Linked DNA regions of Homo sapiens: regions 1 and 3 are each linked to region 2. Evidence: fine-mapped expression QTL. A gene starts in region 2. Each other region holds a variant in brackets. All regions are shown on one strand. Distances are from middle to middle. Region 1 overlaps OR9Q1 (olfactory receptor family 9 subfamily Q member 1). Region 2 holds the start of MED19 (mediator complex subunit 19). Region 3 has its middle 74 kb from the start of CTNND1.

Evidence for each region. PIP is the estimated chance that this variant, and not a neighbour inherited with it, causes the effect.
Region 1: its variant is fine-mapped to the expression of MED19 in whole blood (TOPMed, PIP 0.93).
Region 3: its variant is fine-mapped to the expression of MED19 in whole blood (TOPMed, PIP above 0.99).

Annotation. Positions count from the first base shown.
Region 1 is chr11:58,141,855-58,150,040 of GRCh38, reverse strand. The region is part of intron 2 of OR9Q1 (olfactory receptor family 9 subfamily Q member 1); the gene reads right to left. It also overlaps the pseudogene OR9I2P. Among named protein-coding and RNA genes, the nearest start is that of OR9I1, 20 kb to the right of the region's middle. The variant T/C (reference allele first, on the strand shown) is at 4,747.
Region 2 is chr11:57,707,383-57,715,568 of GRCh38, reverse strand. It overlaps MED19 (mediator complex subunit 19), which reads left to right and starts at 3,354. Exons shown (of 5, transcript NM_001317078.4): 1 at 3,354-3,606. The coding sequence starts at 3,390. TMX2 (thioredoxin related transmembrane protein 2) reads right to left here and starts at 2,976. Exons shown (of 8, transcript NM_015959.4): 1 at 2,762-2,976. The coding sequence starts at 2,950. It overlaps TMX2-CTNND1 (TMX2-CTNND1 readthrough (NMD candidate)), which reads right to left and starts at 3,046. Exons shown (of 21, transcript NR_037646.1): 1 at 2,762-3,046. RefSeq lists an enhancer at 1-16 and a silencer at 3,384-3,723.
Region 3 is chr11:57,831,608-57,839,793 of GRCh38, reverse strand. No RefSeq gene overlaps it. Among named protein-coding and RNA genes, the nearest start is that of CTNND1, 74 kb to the right of the region's middle. The variant C/T (reference allele first, on the strand shown) is at 4,956.

The DNA.
Region 1 (8,186 bases), 430 kb before region 2:
TGGTTCCTCAAAAAGTTAAGCATAGATTTACCATATGATCCAACAATTCCACTTTTAAGTAGTATACACTATGCAAAAGAATAGAAAACAGGGACTTGAACACATCTTTGTTCACCCACATTTATAGCAACAGCATTCACAATAGCCAAAATGTAGAAACAACCCAAGTGTCCACCAACAGATTAACAGATAAACAAAATATGGCATATCCATGCAATAGATTATTATTGATTTATAAAAAGCAGTGGAGTTCTGATATGTGCTACAAAATGCATGAACCTTGAGAACATTGTGTTAAATGAAAGAAGCCAGACACAGAAACACAAATATTATATGATTCCACTTTTATGAAGTACTTAGAAGAAGCAAATCCATAGAAACAGAACTAGAATGGTGATTGCCAGTGGCAGGGGGGCAGAGAGAAATGGGGAGTTAATGGGTACAGAGTTTCAGTTTGGGATGATGAAAAAAGTTCTGGAGAAGGATAGTGGTGATGGTTGCAAGACAATATGAATATATTTAATGCCACCAAACTGTGTACTTACATGGTTAAAATGGTAAATTTTTTTAACCACTTAAGTTTCCATGTTATGTGTATTTTATTGCCAAAGAAGCCTTTAAACAATCAAGAGGAAATTTTTTAAGTTAGTTAAGTGCCAACTATGTGCCAAGTCCTAAGTGACACACCAGGAATACAGTGAGGAGCAAAGTCCCTACCCACACAGAGTTCCCAGCATATAGTAGCTCCTCAATAAAGAGCTAATTTATTGAATTAATGAATGAAATATTTTAGGCTCTGTCTATATATAAAACAACAGATGTCAACAGGCTATTTTTACAATGCTTTTTTCAGGGGTTTTAATACCCAAAGAAGCATATTTAGTAAGGGTAGAATTAGAAAGAGTTTAGATATTCATTCTATTACAAGATCAAAAGCACTTTTTTGCTGCTCTTGCTGTCATTTTTTATTTTTGTGTTTCACTATTATGTTTTAAATAAGAACAAAGATGTTGAGAAAAAGAAAAAGACACAATGTTCTTTTCAACTATTTTCAGAAAACCTCACGATTTTTGAAGAAGAGATGAGTGGAAATAGCTGAGAGTTTCTTTCCCAACAGGACCAAAAGGACGAATTGTATAATGTCCATGAAGCATCTTGATCTCCACAAGCAACTTCGCAGATCCGCTACAGGGAAGCCGACAGCCCACTTTCTTTTCAACTTCTATCGGCTTTCCCCAATTTCTCTGGTGATTTATCCTCTCCACATTCTCTATCTAAGTAAGATTCAGGAGAAAATTTAGTTTGAGGTTTGAATTCAGCATCAGGCAAAATGAGATTCAAAAACTAGAGCTGCCTTACCTTTTTTGAATTCCATCACCAGGAAAAACCTTCAAACCAAACATGCTTCATTTCTTTTTTGCCCTTTAGCCCCATAGCCACCAAAAAGGCATGGGAGAACCATGGGGATGGTGGCATTGGGGCTTGGGCAGCTCTGTTCTTGTGGTCATTTGCACATGGCTTTGATGGCATTTTCTCTTCCCTGTAGCTTAGACAAATAGAATTGGAGCAAGGAGGAAAAAAAGAAATCTGGTAAGTATTTCTATCCATCTTGTATTGATCTTCATGACAAAAGAAAAATTGTGTGTGGTTGTTTTTGCTCTTATCTGAAGCACTGTGGCTCCCTCAGACAAAATGCATTCCCATATACAAAAAGTAAATATATATATATATACACACTTCTGCCAAAGGCCCTAGATTACGTGTTGTATGGTTTACACTCCATCATTCTACACTAGACCCATGCCCTCATGCTGATAATCTAGTTAATTTAGATTTACACCTACACTCAATCAACTTAATATATGTGAAAAATACAAATCCATAATTAAAGTTTTGGTGTCGCTCTAAGTGATCAAGAACATAGTACTTTGGCCTCTTGGTGAATTGATTTTAATGGGTCAGTTGAGACTTTGAGGATCTGCTTTCTTCATCTTTCCAATATCATTGTTGGTAAATTGAGGCCAAAATATTATAGCTAAAAATGTATAATTCCAAAGCCTAGTTCTTAAAAGAAATACACTCAGAAGTGAGAAGGAAAAAAAGAAAACAATGCCAGAATTCCTGACTGAATTCTATTTCTAAGAGAATATGTGTAGAATCTATTTTAAGAATGAGACTTTTTTATTTTAAGAATGAAATCTTTAAATGAGATAAGTGAAAACTCAGCACAGAATCTGACACACATTAGGTAATTTATGAATGTTTTTATTCATTTATTAATATATGTAAATAGCAATACAACATACACCATTCCCCAGTGTTTTTTTACGTTAATCAGAAGATAATTGCCTAAAACACACTAAAACTTCATTTTATTTTTATCCACTTGGTGCATACATAAGGCAATTGTATAAACATAAAATACTGGGGATGTATCAAAGATCACTCATTTATAGGCAAAATTGGTTGCCACTCACAAAGTAGAAACTGGGAGGGGTATGAGGTTTTTCCTGCCACTATAAAAATAGCAAACCCCCACTGTCTAGCATTTTACTCATTTCTTTGTTTTTACATTTGAAGACTTTTCCTGCCTTTAAGCACAGAAGCAGCCCAGTAAGGGGTGGTTTCTTAAGCTCATAAACACAGTCTGGCACAGGGTAGGAGGTTAATGAAAACATGCTGATCCCTTAAGAAGGAGTAGTTGATGATCATTTTGATGAAGGGACAGATAGTGTATACCTGTGTCTACCTGAGAAAGGTCACACTTTATGGAAGGAAGAGTGGACCAATGAAAAGGTGGGCATCACCAAAAACATATTTCCCTAATTTTGCCACTTTGCCAAGAATCAGTCCTAAACCACCATCAAAGCCATGCACCTGCTAGCTTTCTCTAACATAACATGTGTCCTAGAATGAAGCATACAGTATTGCATGGAAATCAAATGCCATGCACTGGGATGCACCAACTGTTGTTTCATAGACAAAGTGGTTCTATTTCCCTCCAACTCCACCACCACCAGCGTCCTTTCCACTCATCACACTGCAGCCAAAGGAATCTTTTAAAAATTCGTATCTGATCATTTCGCACTCTACTTTTGAAATAAAGTCCACAAGTCCCCAAGCAAATCTGCAAGGCTCTGTGACAGTTTCTATGGAATTCGCCAGTTGCATCTCACACTAAGCCCTGCTCCCTCATGCTACAGCCAATCCCAGTTCCTCAAGGCATCCCATTTCACAGACCTTTGCATTTGCAATTCTTTCTGTCTAGAAGAGTCTTCACAACCCATGACTATGGCATACTTATTCCTGAAGCCTCTGCTTAAACGTTAATTTCTCTCAGAAGCCTTTTCTGACCACACCAAATTAGGCTGGAACCCTATTATATAGCATAATAACACCCTGTGCTGCTTCTTTTGTTTCACTTTGCAAAATTGTAAAAATTAATAATTAATTAATTAACTGTGCAATGGTTGATTATCTATATCCCAAGTTCTAATCTCCATGCTGAAGGAACCATATCTATCTTATTTATTACTCTAAACTTAATATTTGATACATAGTAGATATAATACATACTTAAAATATTCTAAACTTAATATTTGATACATAGTAGATAGCATATATTTGCTGAATTGATGAATAAAATTGTGAGGTCTCCATGGAGATATTTCCCAGGTAATATTTCTAGCAGATGAGGAAGTCATTAAAAAGTGGCAGTCAGATTCATTGTTATCTGTCTTCTGACAATAGAGTAAATGTCCTAAAGGAGATAAAAGTAGATAATGGTTTTCATTACTGAAGAATAGGAAATAACTTGAGTTAATTGAGGCAGATGGTCCATGAACAATGCTTCAGAAATAAAATAGAGCTTCTGACCTTTGGTGATCGAGAAATATTACAAAGTTATATATGGGACTCACTTCAGCCCTACATCAAGATCAAATTGTTTCCAATAATTAATGCAAATCATTACATCCTTCTTTTTTCCACAGTGTCTGAGACCTCTATGCCATCTTGGGAAGCAGGCTAACACACCTCCTTTCCCTTCTTTATTTTTTCTTCTTCTGTTTAGTTGCTTTTATTTTCTATGACAAATCCTAAATTGGGTATGACTGAATGTTAAGAAAAGTTTTCTTTCATCAAAGCTGATATCCACACTATGATCCACAACCAAAAATGTGACTGCCCCTTACTATATAAACAATGAGTTACTGTTTTGTAATCATGCTAGGCACAAAAATGAGCTTAATAGAAAAAAATCCGAATAGCTGAGAAAATGCTCCACAATACGCAGGACAGATAAGAAAAAAAATCTATATTTTGTAGCATGTTATTATTTACAAAGCCTTTTGGGATTCCCTCTCCCTTGATCCTGGCTTAAGATCTCTTGACCTTTACCCATAGCAAAGCAGAAATTTTTACTGATGAGAAAACTAAAGTGGATCATTTCTGGCTCTACATCATAAAGCCAATAAAGAAAGTACTGGAACCCAAATCCAACTTTTTCTGCCTCAATATGTCTTTGTAATTATGAGATCTGGCTCATGTGTTAAGAGGACGAGACAAAAGCCCAGAGCAGGATTTGCAGAAACTTCTGGCTTGATGGGGCTCAAGAGTTACTCTGCTTGGGAAACCCTTATCCTGTTGAAAACTTTCTTCAGAGCCTCTTTCATGTCTTTGTTTCTCAGGCTGTAGATCATTGGATTTAGCATGGGGATGACCACAGTGTAAAATATTGACACGATC[T/C]TGTCTTCCTCAAGGGATTCGCCCATGTTGCCTTTCAGGTATATGAATATGAGTGTTCCAAAGAAGAGAGTCAATGCAGTCATGTGAGAAGCACAGGTGGAGAAGGTCTTGGCTTTCCACCTGCTGTACGAATCTTCAGAACAGACTGAATGATGAACAAGTACGATGTAAGAATCACTGAAATGCTGGTTGTGATGACCAGAAAAGCTGAGAGGTAGATTACCCATTCCCGTGGCCTGGTTTCACTACAGGCAAGCTTCAGCAGGGGTGGGAGGTCACAGAAAAAGAAGTCTACATGGTTGGACTTAGAGAAGGAGATAGAGAAGGTGCAGCCAGTGCAGATCACAGAATTGACTATGGCACCAGAATATGCCCCGGCCAGCAGCGCCAGGCGGGTCTTTGGTGTCATGACTATGGCATAGAGGAGGGGGTTACACACAGCCACGTACCGGTCATAAGCCATCACAGCCAAAAGGAAACACTCAATGCTAGCACAGAGTGTGAAAAAGAAGAATTGGCTGGCACAGCGCTCATAGGTGATGATCATCTTATCAGTCCCAAAGTCTCAAGCAACTGAGGACCAATAACAGAAGAGTAGCAAATGTCCAGGAAGGAAAGATGACTGAGGAAGAAGTACATGGGAGTCTGGAGCCGAGGGTCAGTCTGAATTAAATTAGCACAATCATGCCCAGGTTGCCCCCCATGGTGATGAGAAAAATGACCAGAAACACAAAGAAGAGACCTATCTGCAGCTCTGCCTTCAACCGGAACCCCCTCAGAAAAAATTCTGTCACCGTGGTGCCACTCTCTGCCATGAAGCCAACGTTATCCACTGAAATTAAAAAATAATAATAATAAAGTCTCATTAAAGATAAATTTTTATGGCTGCATAGTATTCCATGGAGTATATGTGCCACATTTTCTTAATCCATGATAAGTTCATGTCCTTTGTAGGGACATGGATGAATCTGGAGACCATCATTCTCAGCAAACTATCGCAAGGACAAAAAACCAAACACTGCATTTTCTCACTCATAGGTGGGAATTGAACAATGAGAACACATGGACACAGGAAGGGGAACATCACACACCGGGGACTGTTGTGGGGTGGGGGGAGGGGGGAGGGATAGCATTAGGAGATATACCTAATGTTAAATGACGAGTTAATGGTTGCAGCACACCAACATGGCACATGTATACATATGTAACAAACCTGTACATTGTGCACATGTACCCTAAAACTTAAAGTATAATAATAATAAAATAAAATAAAAGATAAATTAAGGCAGTAATGGCTTGACTTGATCACTGCTCACTAATTATAATAATCTTTTAGATTTGTAAAGCACTTTACATTTTCACAAACTTTATTTTACTTGATCCTTCAGAAATCCTTCGAAGCACATATTGTTTTTATTTTTATTTTATTTTATTTGTTAAGTTCTGGGGTACATGTGCAGGATGTGCCAGCTTGTTACATAGGTAAATGTGTGTCATGGTGGTTTGCTGCACCTATCAACCCATCACCTAGGTATTAAGCCCAGCAAGCATTAGCTTTTTTTCCTAATGCCACCCCCCCGCCTACAGCCCTTCCCCAACAGGCCCCAGTATGTGTTGTTTCCCTCCCTGTGTCCATGTGTTTTCATTGTTCATCTCCCACTTATAAGTAAGGACATGCAGTGTTTGGTTTTCTGTTCCTGCATGAAACACATATTGTTAATCCTATTTTTGACAGAAGAATATGAGGGCAAAAGAAGTAAAGTGACCCAGATTTCACAATTGGTAAATAGGCAAAGCCTAGGTTAGACATCATTTCCTTAGGCACTTCCAAAACTTCTGACAGGTCCCAAATTAGAAAACTTAATCAGCCTCCTGTGGAGGAAAAAAGCACTTTGTTGAAGAAATCCTAGTGGTGTAGTATAAAAGACATGGGCTTTGAAATAAGGTGTAGGTTTGAATACCTTCAGACCTTGAGCAATTTAATTAACCTTTCTGAATTTCAGCCTCCTTCTTGGTTAAATGAGGATTACAATGCCAAAGTTATAATATTATTGTAAAGGACATAATTTACACAGTATGTTGCACATGGTCTGACACACACTTAGAATTATTTTTACTAAATTCTGAGATAATATGAGTGACATGCTCTTAGGTTCATATACATTGTGGAATCTTAAGTCCACAGCCACCTGGAGTTCCAACATCAACTCCACCTTTCTTTAGGGTTGTTTCTGATGTGCATATATGCACAATGGATTTGTATGCCAGACAGTGAGCCATAAAGAACAAACACTGTTAGGACCTCTATAGCCTGTTGCCTGCCAAGTCGCCTCTTCCTCTCTGTTCCTGCCAAGCAACATGGCCTGGTTTCCAAGTTCTCCTCTTATTCCAAAGGATCTGTCCTAGTTTTTTTAATGCCACTTCATTATCAATCAGTGAGATACATGAATCAAGCTATTCCACAATTAGCCTGCAAAACTCATTAACAGACAAAGCCAGCACACTGAGTTTTGAATTCTAATACAGATGGGGTTCTCGCCAGGTATTGGGAAAATACTATCTCTGTGCCTTTGAATCTTGATAATTTAGAGTAATGAACATAGTGAATGTGGACTTCAGAGGTGATTCTTCTTGTCCTCTTTCCATCCTTGAAACAAAAACTGAATTTGAAAAAGATCTCATAGGACTTTAGATAAAGAATAAAGTAAAACCTTGATCAATGTTTGGCAAAAGCTGATCTAATTTTTGAATAATGTTCAGCAACTGGGGGGAGTTTTTTCCCCCACTGAATTCTTGATAGGGTAAATATTTAGGTTGTTTTTCTATACTTAAGGCCAAATCTTACCCTGATCTTCTCCCAGAACAATGATTCGCCATGTTCTTAAAAGGAGTTCCTGTAAATCATCCTGGCCAAAGGGAAAAAGAGGCTATATTCATCTATTTATTTAATAAGAATCTACTGAGAACTTACTATGTAGCAGGCACTTTTCTAGTTGCTTGGAACAAAACAAAGGGTCCTGCCTTCATGCTCATTCTCGTGGAGCCTGGCATATATATGTTCAAAAAAGAAGAAATATATTCTTCTACCATGATGGAAGTTGGTAAGTGCTGTGAAAAAAATGCTGCAGAGTATGAGGAATTAAAAGTATCAAAGTAAGGATAAGGATATTAAGACCATCAAAAAGACTCACTGAAAAGGTGACATTTCAGCAGAAATTCTGGGAATCAGGTAACTGTACATATGTACTTGCATACATCATTTGGCCACAACTAATAGAAAATAAAGACATAAATTGCCAGCAATGGACCACCCTTCTCTGATTACAAAACATATGGAGGTTTTCAGGTCTTTGGGAGACATGTTCCAGGCAACATTGTTCAGAAGTGTTAGCCTTCTGATAACAGAGAGAAGTCCTTAAGATACTAGAGGCTCAATAATC
Region 2 (8,186 bases):
GTTATAAAAGGTTTATGGAAATTTTATCTTGTCTAGTCAAAGCTGATCAAGATTAGACAGATTTGTTTGTAAAGTTTATTAAAATCAGCTTTAGTATTAAAAGCACATTAATACATATATATTATATATAAAATATATTTTTTTAATTTTATTTATTTATTTATTTTGAGACAGAACTTTGCTCTTGTTGCCCAGGCTGGAGTGCAATGGCACGATCCTGGCTCACTGCAACCTCTGCCTCTCAGGTTCAAGTGATTCTCCTGCCTTAGCCTCCAGAGTAGCTGGGATTACAGGCACCCACCACCACACCCAGCTAATTTTTTGTATTTTTAGTAGAGACGGGGTTACACCATGTTGGCCAGGCTGGTCTCGAACTCCTGAGCTCAGGAAATCCACCCGCCTCAGCCTCCCAAAGTGCTGGGATTACAGATGTGAGCCACCATGCCTGGCCAAGTGTCTTATTTTCAAGGAGGATCATGGAAAGCATGGGAAGAATGCTGACAAATAAAGGTTTCTGATAACTTTGAAACTGTATCACCGGACTGGGTAAAAATTTCCAAAGTCTAATGAAAATAAAACTGGACTCATAAAATTGCTAACCTCCAGACTAATGTTTTCCATTTTTCACCCACTCTTCTGACTTAGAATCACTAAAAATTAAAACGGCCTTTTTTAGCTTGGCGCAGTGGCTCACACCTGTAAATCCCAGCTCCTTAGGAAGCCAAGTCAGGAGGATCCCTTGAGCTCAGGAGTTCAAGACCAGCCTGGGCAACATCAAGAGACCCCACCTTGAAAAAAAATTTTTAAAAATTAGCCAGGTGTGTAGTGCATGCCTTTGGTTCCAGCTACCTGGAAAGCTGAGGTGGCAGGATGGCTTTGCCCAGGAGGTTAAGACTACAGTGAGCCATGATCACATCACTGCACTCCAGCTTGGATGACAGAGCAAGACCTTGTCTCAAAAAAAAATCCAAAAAACTAAAAACCCTGCCTTTTTCCTAAGGCCTTACCAGCTAAAGCTAGTCAACGTGACTTTGAAAAAAAAATCACCACAAAAGCTTATATTTGGACAAACTTTACACACAACCTACAATCTAGGAAAATAGATTGCTATTAATCTTCCCAATTGACTGCCCTCCAGACTCTAAAGAAACTAGTTTATAGACTATACCAGATATTAAGCTTTGTTTGTCTTGTTCCATAGAAATGTCTCTCTTATTAAATACCTGTTTGCCTACATCATATACAGAGGCCTAGCTTTGAGAACTCATCTACAATGCCATCTTCTGAAATGAGACACAACAATTTAATTGAACTGGACTATCCCCCAAAATGAGAGGCTGGTTTAATGGGATCCTTTGCCGCTCAATTACTAGCCCGATTTCTCTCTCCACAGACACCAACTCAGCTTATAGTGAAACTTCTAAGGAAGTTTCAGACAAAGGAAATAAAGAAGACCAGGGACTCACACCCCAAAATATGGCATCCTGTATGCTAATCATTTTAAATTAAAGGTCCCTGGAAACCAGCAGATACTGGAAGCAGCTTTACTCTGATAACTACCTTATCTGCCTAAAGTCCAGACCTGTCAAAGAAGACAACAATTACTTCTGGTCTCTTCCCTGAGTTTTCATTAACTTACTTCAGTACAAGAAGAAAGATGGAAGCCTGTCAACACACCTGGACAGATTTTTGTCAGAAACCATTGTCTGCTCTGCAGGCCCAACAGTCATTGTCCCAGGCCACTGTATGTTCTCCAGGCCACTGAATCACCCTAAAAATCATTTACGATCCACCTTAAAATCACCCACATTTTCCCATCTCCCATATTCCTATGAAAGAGGGTATATAAGCATCTGTACCCCACTGGGTCATTCTCCTGCAATTCCCTCATGCTATGCACGTTAAAATAAAATTTCTATGCCTTTCTCCTATTAATGTGCCCTTTGTCGGTTGATTTTTCAACAAACCCTCAGAGAGCAAAGGGGAAGCTTTTCCTTGGCCCCTACATGCTATATGGCAGAAGGGAAAGTGCTTTAAGTTTATGTTCCGAGCAGTCCCTCCACCCATACCAAGGAAGCACAGCAAGGAGCTTGGGACACTTCCCAAAGAAATCCCAAAGATTTCTTTACAACGTATTTTTTACAATTCCTTTACAGTAGCCCCCAAATTTTATCCACTTTCGCATCTTCAGGATCAAGCAGAGTGCCTAGAGTGTACACTCTAGAAATGTTTATTGAATTAAGAAGCGGCTGACAGTGTTGTGCAGGTAGTGTGGCCAGAAGAGTAGTTTCAAGTCCCAGGCACTCATTAGTTGTATGACCTGGGGCAAGTCACCTAAATATACCGAGATCCATTTCTTCACCAATGAAACAGGAATATTACTACTTGCCTTGTCTACCTTACTGGCTCCTCAGGAGGCTTTACATAATGAGCGGCACTGTAAAACGTTATACACGTGTATGTACAGTTTTGATAGGGCTGTTAATTAGTCTCAATGGTGAAACAGAAAGAAACCTGGACTCAACAGTCAAAAGCTGTTGGGCCGTTGTGCATGGGCTACGACTAACATGTTCCGTTTTCCCATCTTAAACACAAAGTTTAGACTCGATGATGGTTCGGACCCTGCACTTAATAGTCTCTAAGTCCGCTACAGGCTCGGAACCTCAGGTGTCCTCAGAGAGGTAAACCCCAGGGTTCCCAGATACACCTGCAAGGGCAGGGACAGTCAAGGTCGCGGGGTACTAACACGCGGGAGGCTCACCCAGTCAAAGTCACACGGGTTACCGTCTTCGCGTTGGGTGGGCAGACCGTGGCAGAGCGGCGGCAGTTTCCTCACGAGTAGGAAGGCAGCAGAGAGCAGGGCCGACAGAAGGTAGTAAGGTTGGGCGAGCCATCGTGAAAGTCGCGGCACCGAATACACGAGAGCAATTAGAGGTGCCAAGACCGCCATCTTTTCGGCCGTAACGGCCACTGCTCGCCGGCGTCGTAGGTCTCGCCCCGCCTCCCCCACCATAACGACTGCTATTGGGCTATATCGCAAACGTACGGCCTCTAAACCCGGATGTAGTTCTCTGAACGCTGTGGTAGGTCAGAACCCAAAAAAGAACTTAATATTTTATTGGTTAGTCTAGTTGTCGCTTTATCCGCCTAAGTCATTTTATTGGACTGTAGCAAGCAGAGCTAGCAGAAGACTCTAATAAGGTTAAATAGCACTTCCTGAACGTTCTCATAAGGCGACGGAAGTAGTTGTTGAAAAAAGGTAGGCGGTGCCTGAGGCATCCAATGACAAGCGGCTCCTTGAGAAAGGGCGGGGGGGTACTCCTTGAAAGCATTGTCCAATGAAAATTACCAACGGCAGACACGGAGACAGCGCCGGGGCGGAGGGTACGATGGAGAATTTCACGGCACTGTTTGGGGCTCAGGCTGACCCACCACCGCCCCCAACCGCACTCGGCTTCGGACCAGGAAAGCCTCCACCCCCGCCACCGCCTCCTGCGGGCGGGGGACCCGGCACGGCCCCGCCTCCCACCGCGGCCACGGCTCCTCCTGGCGCGGACAAGTCAGGAGCTGGCTGTGGCCCTTTTTACCTCATGAGGGAACTGCCAGGTGAGTACTCGGCCTTGCCAAAGCCAGCCAATCAAATCTTAGAGAGGAGGTGATGGGCGTGGCTCTCAGCCGGCTAGCGGAGGTGCGAGGTAACCTAGGCAACGCATACCCGGACTGTGGAGCCCTAAGTCGGAAGCGCTGTTAGGATTCACAAGCAGAGGGATGACTTGAATTCAACCAGGATGAGTTGAATTCAACCAAAGGGATGAATGGCGGGCAGGGGCGTAGTGCATCTCCGTTACTGTCTTTTGCACCATGTCCAGGCTGTGTCCCTGACACTGGTTTATGTCTCTCTAAAAAATGACCTAGGGCTGGGCGCGGTGGCTCACGCCTGTAATCCCAACACTCTGGGAGGCGGAGGCGGGCGAATCACCTAAGGTCAGGAGTTCGAGACCGGCCTGGCCAACATGATGAAACCCTGTCTCCACAAAAAACACAAAAATTACCTGGGCGTGGTGGCGTATACCTTTAATTCCAGCTACTCGGGAGGCTGAGGCGGGAGAATCGTTTGAACCCCGGGAGGCGGAGGTTGCAGAGAGCCGACATTGCTCCACTGCACTCCAGCCTGGGCGAACGAGACTCCGTCTCAAAACAAACAAAATCCAGGGTTTGAGTTTGGAACTCGAGAGGCCTGATTTAATATCTTTGGGGACCCAAAGTTTTAGTTACAGGTCTCCCACAGACTTGCTATTGGTTTGGGGCAAGTTGCCATTCTTCCTTCTAAGGTTCCGGCATTTCCTGGTCTGATCAAAAAAGGGATAAGAATCGAACCAAACTCTTCATTCAAAAAATTATTTTGTTGAGTACCTATGTACCAAGCACTTTTCTAAATGCTGGAGACAGTTGTGAACAAGACTGACAAGATGCTTGCCTTTTTTGGGATGTACATTTCAGTGGAGGAGGCATTGTAAACAAGATAATGTCAGAAAGTGGTTAATGCTAGGAAAAGAAAACATGATAAAAATTGAAGGTGGCCAGGCGCGTTGCTCACGCCTGTAATCCCAGCGCTTTGGGAGGCCGAGGCAGAATCCCTTGAGCCCAGGAGTTTGAGACCAGCATGGGCAACATGGCGAGACCCAGTCTCTACAAAATATACAAGATTAACCGGGCGTGGTAATGCATGCCTGTAGCCCCAGCTACTCAGGAGGCTAAGGGAGGAGAATCGCTTGAACACAGGAGGTCGAGGCTGCAGTGAACCAAGATTGTGCCACTGCACTCCAGCCTGGGCAACAGATGAGACCCTGTCTCTTAAAAAAAAAAAATTGAGGGGCAGAACTACTTTAGCTAGAGTGGCCAGAGATGCTCTCTTCACATAGCTAACATTTGAACTAAAATGTAAGCATAGACAAAGGGCCAGCCATGTATGGACAGGAGGGAGAGACAATTGTAGATACAAGAAATGAGGTCAGAAACCCTGATGTGAGAAAAAGCTTAGAATATCTGAGGGACAGAAAATCAGTTGGACTCCAGTGAAGTGAACAAAAGGAAAGAGTGTTAGGGAGAGAGATGAAGCTGGGAGAGTTAGGCAGAGGCTTTTATAAAGCAGTAAAGGCATTTAGATTGTAAATACAAAAGGAAGCCATTTAAAAAATTTTTTTATAGACACAAGGTCTCACTGTGTCACCCAGGCTGGACTGCAGTGGTATAATCATAGCTCACTGTAACCTCCAGTTCCTAGGCTCATGCTGTCGTCCCACCTCAGCCTTCCAAGTAGCTAGGACTACAGGCATGCACCACCACAGTTGGCTAACTTAAAATTTTTTTGTAGAGACTGGGTCTTACTGTGTTGCGCAAGCTGGTCTTGAACTCCTGGCCAACAGCAGTCCTCCCGCCTTGGCCTCCCAAAGTGCTAGGATTATAGGTCTGAGCCACTGTGCCCAGCCAAGGAAAGCCATTTTAACATAGGAAGTTGGTCAAATGCACTTGTTTATAATCATTTAAGCAGCCACATGACAAATAGAAAGTGGGGAAATTAGTCAGAAGTTACTGCTCAGTAGTCCAGGAAAGATAATGGTTTGAACCAGAGCATAGCAGGGCATAGAGAAGTAAATGGATACAGGATGTTAGAGGTAGAGCTGACAGGGTTGAAAAATTGAATACAGGGCCAGGCGCTGTGGCTCACGCCAGTAATCCCAGCACTTTGGGAGGCTGAGGTGGGAGGATTGCTTGAGCCCAAAAGTTTGAGACCAGCCTGGGCAACATAATGAGACCCCATCTCTACAAAAAATAAAAATAAATTAGCTAGGGATAGCAGCATGCACCTGTAGTCTCAGCTACCTAGGAAGATGAGGTGGTAGAAATCACTTGAGCCCAGGAAGTTGAGGCTGCAGTGAGCCATGATTGTGCCACTGCACTCCAGCTTGGATGATAGAGGAAGACCCTGTCTCAATTAAAAATATATATTGTATATAGAAGTGAAGGAAATAGAGGAATTGATGCCTTTTTAAGTTTTCGGCTTGAATAATTGGGTGTATGGGTACGGAGACTTGGAAGATGAGGAAGGAACAAGTTTGAAGAGGTGGAAATCAAGAGTTATTTTGGACATGTTTGGTCTCCAAGATGCCTCTTTTTTTTTTTTTTTTAAACAGAGTTTTGCTCTTGTTGCCCAGGCTGGAGTGCAATGGCACAATCTCAGCTCACCACAACCTCCGCCTCCCAGGTTCAAGCGATTCTCCTGCCTCAGCCTCCCGAGTAGTTCGGATTACAGGCATGTGCCACCACACCCAGCTAATTTTTTATTTTTAGTGGAGACAGGGTTTCTCCCTGTTGGTCAGGCAGATCTCAAACTCCCAACCTCAGGTGATCCGCCCACCTTGGCCTCCCAGAGTGCCAGGATTACAGGCGTGAGCCACTGCGCCCAGCCTCCCAGATGCCTTTCATTGTCTCAAGTCTTATTTCCACATCATGACTTGAGGGAAATAGCAACAAATATTGGTATAGTACTTTGAAGTTCACAACACACTTACATGCAGTATTTAATATAAGTAGTATTTAATACTTAGAATAGCCCTTTGAGGTAGCATTACTGTCTACATTTTATAATTGAAAAAACTGAAACATGGAGAAGTTGACATCCCTTTGATTAGTTAGTGGTTGATGTCCACCAGCGGTTTCTTTTAATCTTTCTTTTGCCTTCCCTATTCTGATTGTAGCTATTTGTATCAGTCAGTTGACAGATATTGAATATATGTTCTGGGCAAATGCTGGGTGTATGAGGCGGGTGAGATGGAGAGAGAGATTAGTAATGCTGGTCATTGCTTTTCAAGGAGTTTAGTTAGGAATGTAAAATTTGTGGTTTAAGGATAGTGACTATATTTCCTGTCACCTCCATCTCATTTTGTGCTCATGCCTCACAACAGCAATTAACAATATCTTAGCCATCAATATTAAGAACTACCTAATGGTTTTCAAAGTGTGTTGCTATCCAGAATGACAGTGAGAATAAGATGTCACTTGAGCTAGACCTTGAATAATCCATATTGGTGAAGAAAAATTAGGAAGAATTTTCCTAAGATGAAATAATGTGAGGGGTGTTTTTTTGAGGCGATAAGGAGATCCATTTGGATGGATCAGAAATTTTGCATAGGAGAGTAGTGGTTGATGAGGCCCCAAAGCTAAGTTGGAGTAAGATGTAATTAGCCTTGAGTGCCAGTCAAAGGAATTTGAGCTTTCTCCTGAGGGCAAAAAGAAACCATTAAGATTTGTGAACTGAGGAGTACTGATTTCCAAAAATATCTGGAACATGTGGGTGCCATGGATTGAAATAGAGAAGCCCTGAGTGATGTTGGCAAGATTTGGAATTTCAAAACAATTTTTTTTTTTTTTATCTTGTTGGGCAGGGTGGTTCACGCCTGTAATCCTAGCACTTTGGGAGGCTGAGGCAGGCAGATAGCTTGAGTCCAGGAGTTCAAGACCAGCCTGGGCAACATAGGGAGACCCCTGTCTCTACAAAAAATACAAAAATTAGCCTAGCATGGCAGTGTATGCATGTAGTCCCAGCTACCTGGGAGGCTGAGGCAGGAAAGTAGTTTGAGCCCAGGATGCAGAGATTGCAGTGAGCTAAGATTGTGCCATTACACTCCAGCCTGGGTGACAGAGCGAGACTGTCTCAAAAAATAAATAAATATAAAAAGTAATCTTTGTAGAATAGTCAAAACTGGAATTTGAACTCTCAAGTTACAGTTTAGAAAAAGCACAGACTGCCTTCTCACCTGAGCCTTAAGGATAACCATCTGGACAGAGGAGAGTTGGCAGAGCAGGGGAAATTCAGAAGATTGTAATGGCAAGAGGCAGTGCCCAGAGTTATGAGGAGAGATACTGTGACATTGGGTCTCCTGCCATTACCCTCGCTCAGTCTTCTGAGTTGTTTGGTAGTAAAGGGAAGGAAAAGGATGAATAAGGCCTAGAGGTATAGAGGGAAAGTGCCTTGTTTATTTAATAAATATTTATTAAGCACCTAATGTGTGTACTGTGCTGGGCACTAGCGATACATGAATGAACAAGACATTGTCTGTGCCTCCAAGGAGCTTACAGTTCAGTACCTCAGTTTTCCCAAGTGAATGATTATAAACAAGCCATTT
Region 3 (8,186 bases), 120 kb before region 2:
ACACATTATTAGACAATAGCATTGAAAATTTTTTGGCTAACTTGATAAGCCCAAAAAGTGGAAATACTTTATTGTTTTATTTGCACTTATTTTATTACTAGCAAGAGTAAACAATTTTCCACATATTTATTTGTTATATAACCACTTTTATTAATTATCTGTTCAAGTCTTCTGGCTACATATATGTATATATATGACATACGTATATGTATATATCAGCTTTTCATATAATGAACACATTTAATGATTTGTCATATCTGCTGAAAATATTTTGCCATTTTTTGAATATCTTATTTTGTTTATGTAGGTAACTTTTAATGCCTGTGTACTCTATCTTTTCCTTCTTGATTTACTCAATCATTTAGAAGTTTGTAAGTTACAAAAATGAAAATACAAGCCACAGACCGAAAGAAAATATTTGTAGAACACTTATCTGATGGGCCAGGTGCTGTGGCTCATGCCCATAATCCTAGCACTTTGTGTTTGTTTTTTTGTTTTGTTTTGTTTTTTCTAAATGAACATTGAGTTTATTTATTTATTGACATTTTTCCCTTTCCAACTTTTATTTTAGGTTTAGGGGATACATGTGCAGGTTTGTTGCATGGGTAAATTGTGTGTTGCAGGGGTTTGGTATATAAATAATCTTGTCACCCATTTAATCAGCATAGTACCCAATAGGTAGTTTTTCAGTCCTCACCCTCCTCTCACTCTCCACCCTCAAGTAGGCTCTGGTGTCTATTGTTCCCTTCTTTGTGTCCACATGTACTCAGTGTTTGGCTTCCACTTGTAAGTAAGGACATGCAGTATTTGGTTTTCTGTTCCTGCATTAATTCTCTCAGGATAATGGCCTCTAGCTCCAGCCATGTTGTCGCAAAAGACATGATTTTGTTCTTTTTTATGGCTGTGTAGTATTCCACAGTGTATATGTACCACATTTTCTTTTTCAAGTCCACTGTTGATGGGCATCTAGATTGATTGCGGCACTATTCACAATAGCAAAGACTTGGAACCAACCCAAATGTCCAACAATGATAGACTGGATTAAGAAAATGTGGCACATATACACCATGGAATACTATGCAGCCATAAAAAATGATGAGTTCATGTCCTTTGTAGGGACATGGATGAAGCTGGAAACCATCATTCTCAGCAAAGTATCGCAAGGTCAAAAAACCAAACACCACATGTTCTCACTCATAGGTGGGAATTGAACAATGAGAACACATGGACACAGGAAGGGGAACATCACACACCCGGGACTGTTGTGTGGTGGGGGTATGGGGGAGGCATAGCATTAGGAGATATACCTAATGCTAAATGACGAGTTAATGGGTGCAGCACAGTATACATATGTAACAAACCTGCACATTGTGCACATGTACCCTAAAACTTAAAGTATAATAATAATAAAATAAAATAAAATAAAAAACTACCATTCAATCCAGCAATCCCGTTACTGGGTACATACCCAAAGGAATAAAAATCATTCTATCATAAAGACACATGCACATGTATGTTCATCTCAGCACTATTCACAATAGCAAAGACATGGAATCCTAGCACTTTGAGAAGCTGAGGCAGCATGATCGCTCAAGCCCAGGAATTCAAGACTAGCCTGGGCAACATAGTGAGACTATAGTCCCAGCTACTCAGGAGGCTGAGACGAGAGGATCCCTTAAGTCCAGGAGGTCAAGGCTGCACTCCAGACTGGTTGACAGAGTGAGACCCTGTCTGGAAAACAGCCGGCCGCATTGGCTCACGCCTCTAATCCCAGCACTTTGGGAGGTCCACGCGGGCAAATCACCTGAGGTCAGGAGTTTGAGACCAGCCTGGACAACATGGTGAAATCCCATCTCTACTACAAATACAAGTTAGCCAGTCATGGTGGCACATACCTGTAATCCCAGCTACTCAGGAGGCTGAGGCATGAGAATCGCTGGAACCTAGGAGGCGGAGGTTGCAGTGAGCCGAGATCACGCCACTGCACTCCAGCCTGGGCAACAGAGCGAGACTCTGTTTAAAAAAAAAAAAAAAAAAAAAAAAATTCCACTTATCTGATAAAGGATTGGTATCCAAAATATATGAACTCTAAAAACTTAATTTAAAAAAATTTAAAAAGGGCAAAAGATCTGAAAACTTTACAAAGAAGATATAAAGATGATAGATATGCAGATGAAAAGATGCTCAGCACCATGCATAATTAGGAGACTGCAAATCAAGGCAATGATGAGAGAGAAAACAACAAGAACGAGATACCACTACATACCTATTAGAACGACTGAAATCCAAAACACAAACATTTACACCAAGTGCTGGAGAGGATGGGAAACGGCAGGAACTCTTCCTCACTGCTGGAGGAAAAGGCAATTTCAGTTTACAAAGCTAAGCACAGGCTGACCATATGATTCAGGAATTGTGCTCTGTACTAGTCTGTTCTCACACTGCTATAAAGAAATACCTGAAACTGGGTAGTTTATAAAGAAAAGAGGTTTAATTGTCTCATGGTTCTGCAGGCTGTACAGGTTTCTGCTTCTGGGAGGCCTCGGGCAACTTAGAATCATGGAGGAAGGCAAAGGGGAAGCTGGCACATGTTACATGGCTGGAGCAGAAGGAAGACAGTGAAGGAAGAGGTGCTACACATTTTTAAACAATGAGATCTCATGAGAACTCACTCATTTTCATGAGAACAGCAAGGGGGAACTCTACCCCCATGAGCCAATCACCATCCACCAAGCCCCTCCTCCAACACTGGGGATTACAATTCGACATGAGATTTGGGTGGGAACACAAATCCATACCATATCATGCTCCTTGGTATTTACTCAAATTAATTGAAAACTTACATCCTCACAAAAACCTGCACGTGAATGTTTACAGCAGCTTTATTCATAATTGCTAAAATTTAGAAGTACCCAAGATGTTTTTGGATTTGTTTATCCAGGTAAATGGATAAACTATGGTACAGCCATACAATGGAATATTATTGAGCAATAAGAAGAAATGAGCTATCAAACCATAACATGACAGGAAAGAGCCTTAAATGCTATTTCTAAGTAAAAGAACCCAATCTGAAAAGGCTACATACTCTAATCTTTCTGGAAAATAATTTAGTACTGTATATCAAGAGTCTTAAAAATGTTCATAATTTCTAACCCAGCAATTCCTCTTCTAAGGAAAAAATCCAGAAGAAAAAGTTTAGGTACTAAGATGTTTATTACAGCATATTTATAATACTATACATAGGTATTACACTTAAGTATCCAACAATTGAGCAAAAGTTACATAATGGTATATTTATTTAATTAAATATCATGCAGCCATGAAAAGAAAATACGATTTTGAAGCATTAATTGGGAAATGTTATAAAACAAGGTTAGGCAAAGAAAAGCAGGTAACTGTGTTGTATATATTGTATAATTTCTATTTTTTAAAAAATAGAAAAACACTAGATGGAAGGATGCCAGAATGTTAATAATGGTTGCCTCTGGATGGCAGGAACTAGGATTATAATTGACTTAGCCTCTACTTAAAAAACTAGGATTATAATTGACTTAGCCTCCACTTAAAAAAAAAAAAAAACATTTGCTGTACTTTCTTATTTATTTATTTAAAGATGGGGTCTCACTCTGTCACCCTAGCTATGCAGCAGGTTCAACCTCCTGGGTTCAAGGGATCCTCCTGCCTCAGTCTGCCAAGTAGCTGGGAGTACAGGTACATGCCACCACACCTGACTAATTTATTTTTCTGTAGAGACAGGGATCTCACTATGTTGCCCAGGCTGGTCTTGAACTCCTAGGCTCAAGTAATCCTCCCACCTCAGCCTCCCAAAGTGCTGAGATAACAGACATGACCCACTGTGCCTGGCCCCTTCTGAACTTTCTAAATTATTTTCAATTATTACATTTTTTAAATTGTTTATAGCTAGTAAAAATAATAAATTAAGTTACTCAATACGACCTTCTCTGCTCTGTCATCAGTTTGTTTGTTTGTTTGTTTTTGAGACAGAGTCTCACTCACTCTGTCACTCAAGTTGGAGTGCAGTGACACAATCTTGGCTCACTGCAACCTCCACCTCCTGAGCCATTCTTCTGCCTCAGCCTCCCAAGTAGCTGGAAATACAAGCATGCACCACCACACCCAGCTAATTTTTGTATTTTTAGTAAAGATGGGATTTCACCATGTTGGCCAGGCTGGTCTCAAACTCCTAACTTCAAGTAATCTGCTCACCTCGGCCTCCCAAAGTGCTGGAATTGTAGGCGTGAGCCACTGCGCCCAGCCCTGTCATCAGTTTTGTACCTCAAAGAAGTACCTGGACCTGCTGGGATGTAAGCTTAACTCTGCAAACCTTTTTACTATATCCTACTTAGAGGCACTTACAAGGCATTCTAAGTCTGCACCGCTGGCTACCACACAGGAATAATAATACACCTGGATGCCAACATGCAGAAGCACAAGACATCTTGTATGGTGGAAAGCAACAACTCCAGAAGAGGGAAAGTTCCAGTCTGAAGTGGGGGAAGGTGAGTACAGAAATAATTGATGAGAGATGGACAGAAAGAAGGAGAGAAGTGCAGCTCTCTGGGACATGACTTGGCTTTCTGAATTCAGAACTATACCTGAAAATGAAGAAGACCTGGGCCCACTGTCAGACTCTAGTGCTTCTCCATGAAGGGGCTTCACTTTAGCCCTACAGGAAGGCAGTTGTTCCCTTTAGATAACAACCAGGACTCCAGAGTTTGAACCCCTGTAGCAGGAGTTAAGTGGCTGGGAGCAGAAGATGAGATAGACTATGAAGACAAGCTGAGTCTTTAGGGCAGAACTTCTCAAATCTTAGTGAACTTTAGAATTACCAGGGAGATTGTTTAAATTGGTGATACTGGCACCAGAAATGCTAGGGTAGGACAAGAAATATCGCATATTTTTAAACCAACCAAACAAGCAGCAATAAAGGAATA[C/T]TGCATTTTTATCAAGAAACTCTCTGCTGTCAAGTCTTCCTGATGCATTTAAATTGCAACGGCTTTAAAATTCAAGAGACTCTCAAATTGTAGGCAAAATACTATGTGTGTGCATTTCTCTGGAGCAGGTCCGTAACAATCATCAGATTCTCAAGGAGTTCCATAATTCAAGAAGGCTAAGATCTTAATGAGCACAAAAAGTAAGAACTAAAGAGGCTTCACTCAAGCATCAAGTCAGAGGGGCAAAGGCAAGGTTAAGAAACATGCGTCCCGCCCACCAGGACATTGTAGACTGAAAGCCAGAGGGATAGAGACACATAAAGATGTACCTAAATGATTTTCACCAAGTCTGGAATGTTTTTTATTTTTAGACAAGATCTAAATGTTATTTTTATTTTTAGACAAGGTCTCACTTTGTCACCCAGGCTGGAGTGCAGTGGCATGATCATAGCTCACTGCAGCCTCAACCTTCCATGTTCAAATGATCCTTCTCCCTCAGCCTCCTGAGTAGCTGGGACTACAGGCACGTGATCCCACACCCGGCTAATTTTTGGGTTTTTTGTAGAGATGGGGCCTCACTGTGTTGCCCAGGCTGGTCTCAAACTCCTGGGCTCAAGCGATCCTCCCACCTCAGCTTCCCAAAGTGTTAGGATTACAGGCACCTAGCAGAGTCTGGAATGTTAATAGTTCATTTTTATTAGCTGTTAGCAGCTTGATGCATGAGTATGTGTCCGTGTGTTTTAAAGGCGCAGGGCTCAGTGAGACATTACATTTGAGGGAGATTACTAGGAGGGAAAGTCAGTGGATTTGCCTAGTCAGACAGACTCTAAGATTTCACAGAAAAGGGAAGAAGAGATGGCTAGTTGTTGGGGTCTTACACTCTGGAGTTTAAGCTGCTATAAGAAGGTAGAGTACGGTCAAGTAGATGTGGTGGTGCATACTGAAAGCAGCTATAGTTGAAACGGAGCAACAATAATAGAAGTGGTCACTGTAAACCCAAACAGCTGGCATCACTCCCTACCTCACCAAATTATCAGTTATGGTGCACAGGAGGACAGACTGGAGACTCTGATCAAAGAAGATGCTGAGACAGTTGTAAGGGAGACATAGTTCTCCGTGTGCTCTGTCAAGAGCCAGATAGAAGAGAAAGGAGCAGGGTTCCAGCCTATTCCCCAGTGGGTGCTAAGAAGGACTGGCTTTCTTGTTACAAGGAGTAAGCATATTTCCACACCCTCTTTGTTGTCTTCCCTAGGAGTATGGCCTGGGAAATAATAATTACAAATATTGTCTTAAAAGGTTTACCTCCTGGGACCAAATCTTCACTGGCTAAATTCCTCTCAAAACAAATGCTTTATTCATTTGCCTCCCAGCTATATTAAAATAGCCTCCCAGCTGATTTCCCTACCTCCAATCTTCTGCACTATGGCTCAAGTGACGGTCTTTAAAATATTCAACTGTTCTCTCAATGGCTACAGAGAAATTTTTTGAAGCCTCAGAATCCCGTTTTTAAACAAAATATTACCTGGAAGCCCAATTTAATAAAAGTTAGAAGCAAAGCTGTTCTTGTTAAAATATCCTAGTATCCCCTCTGTTCAGCTCCTGTCCCCCATCCTTGCTCCAGAGGCTCCACCTCAGAACGCTAGGTCTCCAGGGTGGTGTGAAACTCATTTGCCTGCATGAAAAGAACTTTATAGCCCAAGCACCACCCCTGAGACCCTAACTCCCTTCATAGTCCCATATCCTGCTGCCCTGTATGTCCCTGTGCCTCAGCCACATGGAGCTACTAGATCCCAAATATACCATTTTTAAAAAACTTATTACAGGGAATTCTAATTTTAAATTTTAAATAATATACAGAAAAATCAAACAAAATACTATAATGAAACTTGGTGTACCCATACCCCAGCTTGAATTACCCATAGCCAATTGTGTCACTTATAGCCTCATCTACTCTTCTCCCATACTACTTAGAAGCAAATTTCCTCATCATAACATTTTATCCATTAAAATTTCAGTACATTGCTCGAATTTACAATGAATTAATCATAACCCATGATACCACTGTCATATCTAAAAATAATAATCCCTGAGTAACATCAAATATCCAGTATTCGAATTTCCAATTGTCTCATAAAATGTCCTCTTTATGTTAGAATCCAAATAAGACGCATGCATTGAGACTGATATTTTTTAATCTATAGGTCTGTCTCCACTTTTTTTCTTCTTGCAATTAATTTATTAAAGAAATTGGGTCATTTGTAATTCCTCCCATGTTGCTAGTTACATCCTTATGGTATAGTTAAACATTGCCCCCATCTTCTGTGTTTCCTATAAAATAGTATTTGGATCTACAAGTTTGATCAGACTCAGGCTTGATATTTTTTTAAACTACTTCATAGGTGATACAGATCTCTTTTTGTGATGTTAGCAGCTGTTGATGCTCAATGCCTAAGATCCCTTTATTAGGGATTGCAAAATGATAATATTATATTTCAATCACACCTTCAATTATGAGATGAAATGTTTCTATAAAGAGAAACTTCCTCTTGCCTATGTGGACACCTAATGAACAGCATTCTTTTTATACCTCTGTACTTTTGCACATTATTCTATCTGACTTGAATGACTTCACACCTTCTCCAACTGATGGAATCCTAATTATCCTTTCAAACGAACCAAAATGTCACCTCAGTGAAGCCTTGCCCTCCTTCCTGGCAGAAGTCAACCATCTTCTAAATGTTAAAAAGAAATCATTATAGTAATGCTTACCTCATTAATGAATTTACTGCCTTCATCCCTGGGATCAGAGCTCCTCAAAGACAGGAATAGCCTTAGGCCCTAGCATCTGTATGAAGTAGTTTCCCATCACTAGTGGCATCATAACGGTTGTAGTATCATAACACAATGCATTACTCATGTATTTGTGGTGATACTGGTGTAAACAAACCTACGGCACTGTCAGCCATATAAAAGTATAGCACATACAATTATGTACAGTACATAATACTTGATAATAATGAATGATTATGTTATTGGTTTATGTATTTACTATATTTTATTATTTTGAGTATATTCCTCCTACTTATTAAAAAAAGTTAACTATGCCAGGCAGGGTGGCTCACGCTTGAAATGCCAGCATTTTGGGAGGCCAAGGCAGGAGGATTGCTTGAGCCCAGGAGTTCAAGACCAGCCTGAGCCTGGGCAACATGGTGAGACCCCGTCTCTCCAAAA